2 linked regions of the Homo sapiens genome follow. The protein of the gene in region 2 purifies or fractionates together with the protein of the main gene of each other region. This does not show direct contact. Each region holds a gene or a part of one and is shown on either strand. Other genes may lie near its edges.

Region 1 (7,041 bases), on a different chromosome or scaffold from region 2:
TCACCCCTCCCAGAACAGCCCCCTCCCAAAGAGTGAGGCCCAGAGAAGGACCACCCACCCCACCTCCCAGGACCTCAGCATCGGGGCCCAGACCTCGGCTGCTGAGCAGGGCCTGGATGGCTGCGTAGCCAGGCCTGGGGCCAGAGGGGAGCAACCCAGCCTTCAGGTCCTGCAGCAGCATCTGGCCGGTGAGGAAGCTGTCAGTCATGGTTGTGGCTATGACACCTGTAGGTCCTCTCTTCACCCAGCCGCTGCAGTAGAGGCCTGAGAGGGGGTAACAAAAGGGGAAGGGAGGGAGGTGGCTGGATACCACCCTGGCCATCCTGTGCCCACAATCTACACCCACGTGCACGCACACAGACACCCCACGCCTCTTGGCAGACTGTCGGCTGAGCCTGCTGTGGCCGCTGGTCCACTGCCCTGGATTCTTCTCTCCCTGTTTTTACCAGGCCGACCCCCTTACACCTCAGTTTCCCTGTAGATGAGGGGATCCCTAAGCTTAGGAGCTGAGGCTTGCTCCCCTGCAGTTTCAGTAGGCCCTTGGTAAATGTTTACCAAGTGAATTAATCACTAGATAGGTATGTGGGCACTTAGTAAAACTGGAAGCTCCCTGAGGACACAGGCTGCCTTATTAATCTCCAATCCCAGCACTAAGCACAGGGCCTAACCCAGAAAAGACCTCAGTAAACGTTTGTTGAATGACTTAATGACCCGACGTATGTCACATATGTCCTAGCCAGACTGGAACTTCTCTCAGGGCCAAGAGGAGGGCGGCACTGGGTCCTAGAGAGGGCCTGCCCTGCAGAAGCTTCTCAGTACATGTTGCTAGATGAATGAACGCATGGCCCCAGGAGATACCAGCTTCTCGGCCTCTCACCATAATTCAGCACCCAGCCTCCTCACACCCTCTCACCTGGCACATCCATAACCCGGCCCTCCACATTGGGGATGACCCCAAGCTTGGAGTCAAAGGGCACGCTTGGGTCGACAGGGCGGCTCTTATACCCAATGCTGCTGAGCACCAGCCCACAAGGGAGGTCTTCCATGTCTCCCGTGGGCACTGCACGGGTGGCCTCATCGACACCCTGTTGGGGAGAGTGTGGGCAACACCAGGCGGGTGGCAGAGGCCTGGGAAGGGGGTGTCTTTGGGAAACATGAGACTCACCTCCAGTCTAGTGACTGCTAGGCGGACACCTGCTGCCCGCCGCCCATCTGGTGAGGGCAGCACCTGCTGGGGGCTTCGGAAAAAGCGGAGGCCCCAGGCACGGGAGGCCGATGCCTGGCGGGCAGCTTCCGCCGGCCCTGGCTTCTCTGTGGCCGTTCGAAGCAGCAGTTCCGTCAGCCGCTTCCTCGGGCGGGGGACCTCTGTCAGCAACGTAGAATGTCTCCAGGCTGTCCCTGGGCCCCGGCCCTCTCCCTGCATGCCCTTCCCCAATCCCTCTCTGACCTAGGCCACCCTCTCCCTAGTAGTTGGGGGGCCAGGCCAGGGCCCCTCACCCTTGATCTTGTCCTGGAGACCCAAGAAATCCACAGGATCCAAAATGGGCCGGGCTCCCGGTAACTGAATCATCTCCCGAAGCTCCTTGAAGGTGGGAGCAGGGAATGGGGGAGGAGGTCAGGCCCAGAACACAGTCCACCTGAGCCCACCCCAGGGTCCAGCCCAGGCAGGAGAGACCACCACCCGCCTCCTCCCCAAAGGCACAGGGCCCCCGGGGCCCTGACTGCTCCCCTTCTTCCATCCCAGGCAGCAGCTACTCCCAGGGGCTCTGCCCCACCCCAACCCCTTAAGGAGAGGCCCCCTCCACCTGGAACCCTGGCTCCTCCCACTCTGGCCCCAGCACCTTAATGGTGAAGGCCACTTGCAGGGGTCCACGCCGGCCCACTAGCCACACTGTCTTCACTCGACTCTGCCTCAGTACACCCAGGGCTGCCTTCGTGATGTCCGTTCTCTGGCACAAAAGGAGGGCCTTGGAGTCATCAGACACTGACCGAGGAAAGGGGACTCTCCATTTGGTCATGTCCCCACCGTGGGCCTGGAGAAGGCTGGCGGCTCAAAATTGCGCCACTGCTCCCCCCTGGTGGCCAGATGGAGCATTGCTGCCAACTCTGCAAATGGCTCCAACTAATAGCACACCAGGCCCACACTTTCATTCAACAAGTATGTAGTGGGCCTCTACCATGTGCTCACCCCCATGCAAAGAGCTTGGAGGGGCGGGGTGGTCAATGGTGAGGAAAAGAGACAAGGAGCAGGCCCTCTCAGAGCTTGTGATCTGCTGGGGAGAGAAATACTCATCAAATACTCATCAATGTGTGTAAAATTGCTGTGGCGATGATATGCGGTGAAACAGAAGTAGACAGGTCTATGGGAGGAGGCACGATGGGGGAGTGGACCAATTCAGGGAAGTCCTGGAGGAAGGGACAACCGAGCCAAGATCTCAAAGATGAACTTTAACTGTTAACTGGTGGGAGGTGAGTGGGGATGATCCAAGCAGGGGATGTGGCTTACTGAAGAGTAAGAGAAAAACGCCACTTAGCTGGAGTGCAGAAAGTGAAGGGAAAATGGTAGAAGAGGAAGCTCATGGCACTGCCCTTCAGAGAGCCTCTGCCTGGGCACCACGGGGAAACAGAGGCACTGAGCCCAGCTTGGAGAGGTAAGGCCTGAACCCTGCAGACAAGGGCACTCTCTCCTCAGGGTGACCCCACCTCCAACCCCGCCAGCCCTGACCTACCACTCACCTCCAGGTGCTCAGGTGGGGTCAGTAGGATGCGGGCCACGTCCAGAGCCACGTTCCCCTGCCCCAGAATCACGGCTGTGTCACAGCTCAGGTCTGGCTCCAGCTGGAGGGGAAAGGTCTTGATAGGGTCCCCCAGCCTCGCTCCACTCAGTTCATCTCAGTCTGCAGGTGCCTCATGCCTGGTCCCCACTGTGCCCTGGGGCTTCCCCACACCGGGAAAGTCCACAACTCTGGTCCCTCCTCCCCCACCTGGACCCAGCTCTCCCCCGAGGCCCTCCACAGCTGGCCTCCCGCCTCAGTCAGCACAATGTCACAGCTCGCCACTGGATGGCAGCTCCCTCTTCCCCCAGGTCTGGCATCCAAGGGCTGAGGGGCGGGGAGGAAGAGGCAGCGGGCGTGCTCCCCATACTCACCTCCTGGTTCTCAGGAAGCCCGTTGTACCAGCCCACGAAGGCCCGGGCGGAGCACACACCTGGCAGCTCCTCACCAGGAATTTCCAGGGCCCGATGGTCCTCTGCCCCGTAGCTCTGATGAAAGATGGCAGGCCCGAGACCCACAGCCTTCAGCACCAGCACTGATAGGCCGGGCAGCCCCCCAGGCTCCCAGCGGCCTCCTTCCAGCTTCTCAGCAGCTTGCATCCTGGCCTCACCCCTGCTGCCTTCCACCCCGAGCCACCGGCCTCCTTCTGCAGCCCCTGCCTCCCCAAGCCAGGGCCTAGCTGCACTCACCAGCACCACAGCGTGGTAGGCCTCCTGCAGCTCCGGCACCGTCACGTCCCTGCCCACCTCCACGTTGCCCCAGAAGGCACAGCGGCCAGAATGGGCCGTCTGGGTAAATGTGTTGATGACATTCTGCCAGGTCCCCCGGGAATGGGAGGGGTTAGAGGGTAAGGCAGCTCCAGGGACCAAGTCTGCACCACCCTCACCACTCTGTGTCCCCAGGAGGGAAGCTGGGTGGCATGGGCACAGACGGCATGAAGTCCTGTCATCCAGCCAGGGAGCCTCCCTGCCCTCCTCATCTTGACCAAAGTCTCCAAACCCCAGCCTCCAGGCCCAGAGACACCCACCTTCACCTCGGGGTGATCAGGCGCCACACCAAAGCGCACCAGGCCAAAGGGCACAGGCTGTTTCTCGTAGATGTCCACGTGGGCCTGGGGGTGCTGCTGGGGAACAGGGTGGCAGCTGGTGGGGCCGAGAGAGAGAGGCTGGGACGCCCCCAGGTCCTCCCCTTCCCCAGACAGAGCAGGAGAGTTCAGGACCCTGGGCTGAGAACACAAGGCTTCCACCCTCTGCAAGGAAAAAGAGCACTCACTCCTTGGGTGGCTCGCGCCTGTCAGCCCAGCACTTTGGGAGGCTGAGGCAGGTGGATAACCTGAGGTCAGGAGTTCGAGACCAGCCTGACCAACATGGTGAAACCCTGTCTCTACTAAAAATACAAAGATTAGCTGAGCGTGGTGGTAGGCACCTGCAATCCCAGCTACTTGGGAGGCTGAGGCAGGAGAACCGCTTGAACCCAGGAGGCAGAGGTTGCAGTGAGCGAAGATCGCGCCATTGCACTCCAGCCTGGGTGACAGAGCAAGACTCTGTCTCAAAAAAAAAAAAAAAAAAAAAAAAAAAGACGACGACGGCCGGCCCTCAGAGATGGGGAGAAATGTGGCCAGCTGACAAGGCCGTGGCTTCCCCCGACTGGAATTATATCAGGGCGGCTTCTTTATCTTCTCAGGTCAAGCACAACCCACAGCCCTGGCCTCCAACCCTTCGACACTTGGGACCCTCAGGTCCCAGCCAGTCTGAGGACCTGAGGGCCACCCTCTGAATTCACAGGTGCCTTAGCTCTAGTGCCCAGGACCATGCTCTGGGGAAAGGGGAGCAGCAGGACAGGGAGGGGGCACGGCTGGGAATTCACGGGAAAGAGAGGTGGAAATGGGCCTGCTCCCACTCTTAGAAAGACAGTCTCAGGCACTGGTTCTGCATGACCGCCTTCCCAGGGCACCTTGAGAGGCCGTGTGAAAGGCACAGGGTCGGGGGTCCAGCAGGCAAGTCTGGTATGGCTCTGCCACCAACCAGCCACATGATCCCAGCAAGTCCCAGGGCCTCCCCAAGTCTCAGTCTCCCCCTCTGCACACTAGGATGGATGACAGCTCTCTCTCATGGCTGCTGGAAAGCACCAGGAGGTCAGGATGGTGAGACTCTGGGCCACAGGCCGGTTAGCAGTAAAGCAGTCAGGGGTCCCACAGCTGACACGCCCAGCCCCCCATCCTATCTTAGGTCCCCGCTATGACACCTCCAGCTTCACTGGGACTCAAGGCAAAGAAGCCCCTGCCCATCAGTCTCCCTACCCCCAACAAAGGCTCCCACCCACCTCTTCGCCTTTGCCCAAATCCCCCCTTCCCCTCCACTCCCCTGCCTGCACCCAAGTCCACCCTCCCCCACCTCCTGCCTCTCTCCATCCCAGGCCAGCCACAGGGGGCTACCCAAACCACCTCCCTCAAGCCCCACGATGTTGTACCCACAAAGCGCTCTGGGCTTGGAGTCAAACAGGTAGCCTTGGATGCCAGTCCCAGCTCTAGCACTAGCTGGCTCTGTGCACTGGGGAAAGTTTCTTCTCTGTCCAAAAGAAGAGCCCTGTGGTGTCCTGCTCAAGGTTAAATGAGTAATCAGGCAGCCCGGGGTGCAACCTACTCTGAGTGTTCAATCAAGAAGAGAGCTATCATTACTATTCTGTTGTTGTATGTCACTGCCTTGCTCAAAAATCTTCGCTGGGGCCCAGTGCCACAGCATAAAGTTCAAACTGCTCGGCCTAGAGGTCAACACCTCACCCAACCAACCTCTCTGTCCTTATCTTCCATTCTTTCCTGCGACAGATCCTTCACTCTGGGTCACGATGTCCTCTCCAGGGCCACCTCCGGAACGCTAAGTCTGCCGGATGTTCTTACCCCTTATCTCTCGTGGCTGACCTCATCTTCCAGGTTTCCTCCTTCCTTCCTTCCCTCCCTCCTGTCCCTCTAGCTGCTCCCCGCTAACAAGGACATTCTCTGAGGTTCTTCCGATTGGCCCCCCTCCCTCCTCCCTGAGGATTTAACCCACTCCCTCCTGCGACCCCAAATTCCCCTGAACTTGCTGATGACTTTCTACTCTCTCTCTCCTGCCCAGACATCTCCCCAAGCTCCAAACCTGAGACCCTTGGATGTCCCACCCCAGACATCTCAAATCCATCCAGTTTCAAGCCAAGTCCCCTTGCCCCAAACCGCTCCCCACTTCTGCTCCTGTTCCCTCGACCCCATCCACTCAGAGCCCAAGCTGGAACCTGGGGCTCCTCCCTGACCCCCGACCTGATCCCATCAATCCCCCATCCTCCCAGTCCTCTTCCTCACTACAACCCCAGCAGCTCCCCACTGCTATCTGGCCACCAGCCCTGCCTGGACCTACGCTGCAGGCAGAGGGGGCATCCTGAAGGAAAACAGCAGCCCGAAAACTCTCCAGTGAAGCCAACCATCTACAGCTGTGGGCACAAGAATCCTTCGGGGTGTTTAACATTGCTGACTCTTGGGCCCAGCCACAGAGTTTGATTAGGTCCAAGTTAGGCCCAGGAATGTGCATTTTGATAAGATGCCCCGGGAGACTCTGATCAGGGAAGAGGAGGCAGCTGTGGACACCTCCCAGCGAAACCTGCCTCCAGAGCCTGGTCAATGGCTTCCAAGCCCCCCAGGATCTGGGTCCTACCTACCTCTCAGCCTCGGCTCTCACCTCCTCACGCCTTACTGCACACAGGCACCTTCCAGAACTTGCCCTTTCCCCAGAGAGCCATTCTCTTCCTCTTTGTTCACGCAGTTCTCTGTGCCTGGGACACTCCTGCTATTGTCCCCCAACCTGACATCTACTGTCCTTCAGACTGCAATTGGGACATCTCTCCCTCCAGACTGGGCATGGACCCCCTCCCCGCACCCCAGTCTCTGTGCTTATAGCCGTCAGAGCCCTAAAATACCTTGTAAATTATCCACCTGTCCCCTCCACATTCGAATGTCAGGTCCTCGAGCACAGGGACCACGTCTGTCCTGTTCACCCCCATGTTCCCAGTAAAGCCTGCGCCCAGAACATGTTACGTCCAGTAAATGATTACTGAATGGATTAACATGGATGGCCTCACATGGAGCTGCCTTCGCTCAGATCCCAGTGCCATCCCTGCTCCACGGTGGAAGCTTGGACAACCTCACTTGGCCCTAGCATCCTTACCTGTGAAGCAAGAGGCACGACACCTGCTTTGCAGGTTGTCATGAGGATGCTACGAGATGCTGTGCTCAGTGCCT
Region 2 (7,041 bases):
GCCTGGCCTAAGGTTGATATTTAGTAATGGTGCTGGAACATTTATTTTTCCATGTGAAAGAATATATATAAATAAAAATATATACCATCTACGTTTGTGTAAGTACACGGTATGATGTTCCCACAACAACAAAGTCATCGAAGGACCCATTTCTCAGAACATATCCCTGTTATGAAGCCACACATGACTGTATGGTCAAAATAAAGTGTCCCTCCTACCTCTATCCTCAAACCTCCCAGTTCCTCTCCTCAGAGGCAACAATTATTACCAGTTTCTTGTGTATCAAAAGGTTTACATTGGGCCTATGAAAGAAGTCATGTATTCCATACATGCTGTGAGAGAGCAGCAAGGTAGGAAGTATGCAGGGGTCATTTTCATAGCCATGTGGGGCTCAAATTTTCTAAGCCAAAAGGTCCCCAGAGTTGAGTTTTGAAATACTAAGCTGGTGTAGATGCCATCACTGTGATCCTCACATTGGATTCACATTTTTCTACCAAATTGCAGTGTTAGAAAAATGACAGTATCATTCCCATGGGTTGAGAATTCTATGCTGCCTGGATTTTATTGCTTTCTTCAGCCTTTGTGGTGGTAATGCACAATGCCAGTCATCATAATGGCCTACAGCAGGGTATTCAAAGGAATAATTCAGACATGCTTTTAACACTAACTCATAGAATAAAAGGCATCAGCCAAGACTATCTCTTATTGTAGAGATGGGAAATTGGACTCTCAAGAGGCCAGATAGCTATTTAATAGTAGGGCTGGTAACGTAACCTAAATTCTGTGGCCTCACCTGTGCTATACTTAAATGGAAGAGAGCTTTTTTTGTCACTGGGTAATTGCATCTGAGGATGATTTAAGAGAGGGGTTAGTTTCAAGGCAAAAAGTTTCCCTACCTTTGGAGTAGCTGCCTGAAGGTGCATTCCGAATTTCGCTGCGCTCATCATGATGGAGTGCAGGATATTGTTCCCATCCCCGATCCAGCTGAGGGTAAGACCTTTCAGAGAGCTATAGTGTTCCTAAAAGGCACGGGATGAAGGAGATGAAATCCAGGCGTAAATTCGCTTATGTGTAGCAATTACTAAGGTTAAAATAAATAGTCTTAATCTCAGTATTAGTGCCTTGTTAGAAGGAATGAATTCCCAATTTTTTTGCATTACACAGAGCAACTCAATAATATGAATGTACAATCCCAAAAACGTGGTAAAATGTCTTAATATCTTAAACCAAGACACCATATGAACTTGAACAGAGACTAAGAGTTTCATACATTTCAAATCTGAGTCTTAGTTGTATTCACTCATTGGATACAAATGAGCACCATTAACATCCAGACACTGAGACACTGTCCTTGGCCCTGGAGATACAATAAACAAAGGAGACAAAAATCACTGCTTTTATGGAGCTGAAATTCTTTGGTATGAGAAAGGGGAAATACAGAATACCTGGAACAGTGTAGCATAGTGGCTCAGAGCATGTTCCCATTATACGAAGTTGACAAAGATGCTCAATAATACTGTTAGTTGGCCAGGTGCAGTGGCTCATTCCTGTAATCCCAGCACTTTGGGAGACCAAGGTGGGCGGATCACCTGAGGTCAGAAGTTCGAGACCAGCCTGGTCAACATGATGAAACCCCATGTCTACTAAAAACACAAAAATTAGCCAGGCGTGGCACACACTTGTAATCCCAGCTACTCCGGAGGCTGAGGCACAAGAATCGCTTGAACCCGGGAGGCGGAGGTTGCAGTGAGTTGAGATCATGCCACTGCACTCCAGTCTGGGTGACAGAGTGAGACTCTGTCTCAAATAATAATAATAACAAAAATAATAATAATAATACTGTTGGTTGTTTATGGCTATAGATATGTGTAAAGATACTAACATCAGGATAATAACATATTTGTGGAAAGGAAGAAAATAAGATTAGGCAGAGTTACATGGTGGGCTTCAACTCTATCTTTAATGTTTTATTGAAAAACAGCAAAGAATTATAAAGTATCAACATCATGTTAAGAATTGACAAAACTGTGTGAACACATGAATGTTTGTTTTATTTTCTTGAAGTGTCTGTAGGTTTCATATATTTTATATATTTAAAAAGATTAAAAAAGAGAAAGGCTAAGCAATTTGGAGATCACAGAACTACTAGTTGGCTAAGCTAGAATTTAATTCCAGATCCATCTGATTTAGATTCCATGCTCTTAACAAGCTGCTATTTATTCATTCAGCTCCTACTTTAAGTGTCTCCTATATGAAGGCATTGCACAAGGTCCTGCAGGGGACATTATGATGAATAGGACAGCTCATTTTCCCTCAATGAATTTATAATCTAGTAATGATAAAGCCCCAGGGGGAAGCATTAAATTATCTGGTGTATATGTAAAGCCACACCCACAGACAGCCACTTTGGTATCTGACATAATTATATCATCTTCTCTGCATGGATCTCATCCTCATGTCCAAAGTGTTTTATTTTGAGCTTAACCTCACATTTAAATGTGTGTAGTTTATTCAAATGTGGAAGAAGATGGGCCTATCCAGTTTATCTTGTCTCCTCAGAGTTATCCATAGACATAGAAACCATGGCTGTTAGGATTTCCAGGGGCAATATAATGTAGATTGGCTGTGGCAAACCAAACAAGAGGAATCTTTCAAAGTTATTCAAGTTCCTAATTTGGGAGGACTAGAATGGCTAAATTTGAGCCCCAATTCTATAAATTCTGCATATTCTTAACCCTACTTTAAATAACCAGTTTATTAAAATGATAGAAAGTGTCCCCCTCTTCCAGAGTGACTTAGTAACTAACCTTTTTGAATATTCAAAGCACACTCCACCAGTCTTCACTCCCAAGCCACAGACCTGATGTCTATAGAATCACATATGGCTTGTCCATTTTGTATGCTCCAGTGTTCTCTATTCATTCATTGTGTTAAATATGGCACCGAAAAATCAAAGGGATTGACAGAACATAAGATGAGATATGGGCTAAAAGGGTTTGGGAATAGGGTTGAGTGCAGAGCGATCTTAGAGTCTGTTTTTAACAATGTCCTGTTTTCCCCAGAAAATGCACACACAAGCTGTAATTCTTTGTCAAGCTGGTATTTGAAAATAAAACACCAATACCATGATTTAAGTAAACTGTTTCACTTAAAGCAAGTCAGGAATTATTTGATTTTGCTCTTTTGTAAGACAAATAAATAAACCAACCTGGAGCGTGAGGTAATCAGCCAGGATCTGGATAGGATGGTACAAATCTGACAGCCCATTGATAATTGGGATGGATGCTTCTTTAGCCAGGGTGTCCAAATCTGATTGTTTATACACTCGAGCCAATACTGCATCTGCCATGCTAGACAATACACTGTGGCAAACCAAGAAAAAGATAATCTAAGATAATTATGCTTAATAATGCCTTATTTAATATAAGATCAGAAATAATAACAAGAAATACTAATAAATAGAATTTTTACTACATGAAAACCTACCAACATTACAGGTTTAAAAGGTAATATTAAACATGTATTCATTACATAAGCCAGATGTTCTACCTCCCACGACTTATCCAGTGACCAGCGATTTTACATTTTTTATGGAGATAATTGTGGGCCCAGCAGACATAATGATGAGTTATAATTAATAAATGGCCATTGGTTAAAAGGGACAAGACCAAAAGCAAGATATACGGAGAAACATTAATGACCTGCCATATGGCTAATTTTCTTTCACATCATCCAACAGAAAAAAGATACATTTTCACTGTGGAATTGCAAGTCCCAGTGTGGCAGCCATGGAAGTGCACACACAGATCGCCCTACAGAAGAGAACTTGCTGTGAGGAGAGCCATTGGCTGACACTCTAGCTGCTACACCTTCGGATGCCCTGCAGCATTCCTGCCAAGGCCACCCTCCCCAGGCTGTTCCAACCTGATGACAGAACACAGTGGGGAGAATAGCGCTGGGCCATTCCTGCGTGACAGGGACCTCTCTGATAGACAGTCTGTGCTCTGGGGCTCCCCACCAGCCTGGCTGAGACTTTCTCAGAGCTGCGCTACTGGCTGAGGCTCTCTCCCTACCCACGCATCCTTCTTTCCCACAGGGGTCAGACCTGCCTCCCTGTCTGAAGGCCCTCTTGCCCACTCCTGCTGCCTCTCTCTTTATGTTTCTTGGTGGTTCCCTCAATAAATCTCTTGCAAGTCTAATTCCTTCTTGAAATCTGCTTAGTGGACCTGAACTGACACAGAAAGCAATAAACTCTGGTGCTTACAAAATTCAAGGACTGCTTGGCCCCAGGGATTAGAGAATCAAAGATTAAAAACTATATTCCTATAACAATATTTTTCTAGACTTAAAGATCAGATTTTTTCTAATTTTTAATGGATTTATCATGCCCATGGCTCCCAGATTTTCAAATTTCATGAACCAGCAAGATTTCCAAAAATATGTGGAGATCAACATAAGATTTGCAACTCTTTATTTACCAAATTAAGAGCATGAGAAAAGCAAATAAACAGGTATAATGTTACTACCTTAATTTAATTTAAAAAGGATATTTTAACATCAAAAAGGTGTGAAAGACAATTTCAAAGAAGAATCCTTGAAATGAATTATTTGAGCTTTATGAAATTTACTATATAATTCTTATCCTTATTTTTCTTATTCTACCACTTCTGATGGAAGCTTCTCCACACCAGGGTCAGTGGGGATAGAGATTTGTAAACCACTGCTTTGAACTATCTAAGCGCGCTATATTTTATAGCATGAGAAGTGAATAAAAGAGCCATTTTTAAAAAAATGTGATATTGGTTAACTTTTGATGGTGGACTAAGACAAGGGGTTTTCAAATTTTGCTGCACATGAAAGTCACTTGGAGAATGTTTGTTTGTTTTTTTTGAGTTGGAGTCTTGCTCTGTCTCCCTGGCTGGAGGGCAGTGGCGTGATCTCAACTCACTGCAACCCCCTCCTCCCAGGTACAATCGATTCTCTCACCTTAGCCTCCCAAGTAGCTAGGATTACAGGCTCGCCACCACACCCAGCTAATTTTTGTATTTTTAGTAGAGACAGGGTTTTGTCATGTTGGCCAGGCTGGTCTCAAACTCCTGACCTCAGGTGATCCGCCCACCTCGGCCCCCCAAAGTGCTGGGATTACAGGCGTGAGCCACCGCACCTGGCAACTTGGAGAGTTTTTTAAACTCTTGATGCCCAGGCCATATTCTCTATCAATTAAATCAGAAAAATCAAAATCTCTAGGAGTGGGACCTAGGGATCATTATTTTTAAAAATATTCTTACTATATTGTAACGTGCTGCCAAAGTTGAGAACCAAAGCTAGCACCTTGCCCCTCAGAGTAGCAACATCAGCATCATCTGAGAGCATATTAGATCTTCAGAATTTCAGGCCCCACCCAGATTTACTGAAGCAGAATCTGCATTTTAACAAGGTTTCCAGGTGATTCATTTGCATATTAAAGTTTGAGACTCCTAAGAAAGAGGGAATTGAGACTGCCATATTTTTGAAAGCATCATCTATTATTTTCTTAAAATCCTAACCAGGCAATATATCAAGACTAGACAAAGCTTCTGAGATGGCAGCCCACAAAAACAGAAGACTCTGTCTATAATATCCTTGGCAGGGAGGGAATTGAGGGAAAAAGGCAGCTAAACTCCTCTGAGCAAAGAATAGTTCACCACCTTCTGTTAAGGCCCTTCTCGTTAGAGAAGCAACTACCCTTACTTATTTGATGCCCTAAGACAATGGTTCCCAGACTTGGGTGTGTATCGGAACTAAGTGAAGAACTAATACTAATAGATTACACAGAAATAGAGTAGGTCCTAGGCCTTTGTCCTCTTACTAAAACAGACATTCTGTTTTTCATACTATAAGAATGCAAGCTTCTGTCATGGAAAAGTAACTTAAGTGGAGGTAGATATGTCAATAAGGTATATAATTATAATCAACTATCAATTCCCTATATCAGATGAATTGGTTAATTTTATGATGTCTAAAACCCCAAGAAAGAGAGAGAGAGAAGGAGAGGGTGGGGGCAGAGGGGTGTTTAATCCTAGAGGTCATACTTCAGACTTCTTTAAACATGTAGCACTCCCTAAAGTGTGTACAGACAAATAAAAAAAGTCTGGATTAACACTGCAGTTGACCTTCTGGAATCTCATAGCCAGAAAAGCAGATTTGACTTCTATTATAGCCTCTCAAATCATTTTAGGCAGCTAGGACCTTAGGCTGCCAACCTGTTATGGTTTTCTCGAACTTTACAGTATGTTGTTGAATTTTGCTAGATTTAGTGTGTGTCACATGCAGACATTATCTTAACCTCAAAGATGAAGAAATCAAGGCCTTTTAAAACCTTGAAGTAATTAGAGCAAGGTTAGGAAGGAGTGAGGAAGATGAGACTGAAAGACAGAAATGCTAGCAGAACAATTGGAGAAGTCAACGACCTGTACACATGAGTCTTTCAAGAAGACTGAAAAAAAGGCAGGTGTGTTTTTCTCTCTTTAGCAAGTCCCCATCCCCAAAACTCCTGAAGCAAAGCAGTCAAAAGATAAGCATGCATTTAATTTTTCTGTTTATAATGTCAAGCTGGTATCCCTGGAACCTCTGTGGTGTAATTTCATGGGAGTATGCCTGGTTGGCTTTATTCAGGTTGCAACACTTTTCTAGAACAGAGGTTCTTTACTTTGGCTGCACATTAGTATCACCTATGGAGCTTTTACAAAATCCTGATGCCATATTCTGCTTTTTGGAAGGTTAAATCAGAAGCTATGATAGTGAGACCCATATCAACATTTTTAAAGCTCCCCAAGCTAATCCAGTATGAAGACTAGGCTGAGAACCATTGTCCTAGAAAACGGAGTGAGAGAGGAGGTGGGAGGAAAGTGGGCTACTGTGCCACTGGGTGACACAGTGGATCAATGTAGAGGAAGAAACTCTTAGTAATTGCTGAAATCTCATACAATAAGAAAAGTAAGGGATAACGATATGATAAGCTATACTGGAAAGAACAAGATTTTACACACTTATAAAAGACGT

The links. The genes of interacting proteins can lie anywhere in the genome.
Region 1: the proteins of OTC (region 2) and FDXR purify together in Homo sapiens (affinity purification with mass spectrometry; 2 studies listed by BioGRID and IntAct, with this or other methods). This does not show direct contact.

Annotation. Positions count from the first base shown.
Region 1 is NC_000017.11:74,862,983-74,870,023, forward strand, and holds part of FDXR (NADPH:adrenodoxin oxidoreductase, mitochondrial isoform 1 precursor), read right to left. Parts: intron 5,772-7,041; exon of another isoform or gene 5,584-5,771; coding exon of another isoform or gene 5,563-5,583; intron 4,024-5,562; coding exon of another isoform or gene 3,895-4,023; coding exon 3,802-3,894; intron 3,587-3,801; coding exon 3,464-3,586; intron 3,263-3,463; coding exon 3,149-3,262; intron 2,839-3,148; coding exon 2,737-2,838; intron 1,968-2,736; coding exon of another isoform or gene 1,950-1,967; coding exon 1,842-1,949; intron 1,583-1,841; coding exon 1,498-1,582; intron 1,366-1,497; coding exon 1,166-1,365; intron 1,086-1,165; coding exon 914-1,085; intron 265-913; coding exon 94-264; intron 1-93. UniProt on the Homo sapiens protein: Serves as the first electron transfer protein in all the mitochondrial P450 systems including cholesterol side chain cleavage in all steroidogenic tissues, steroid 11-beta hydroxylation in the adrenal cortex, 25-OH-vitamin D3-24 hydroxylation in the kidney, and sterol C-27 hydroxylation in the liver.
Region 2 is NC_000023.11:38,397,596-38,404,636, reverse strand, and holds part of OTC (ornithine transcarbamylase, mitochondrial precursor), read right to left. Parts: intron 3,363-7,041; coding exon 3,209-3,362; intron 1,020-3,208; coding exon 897-1,019; intron 1-896. UniProt on the Homo sapiens protein: Catalyzes the second step of the urea cycle, the condensation of carbamoyl phosphate with L-ornithine to form L-citrulline. The urea cycle ensures the detoxification of ammonia by converting it to urea for excretion.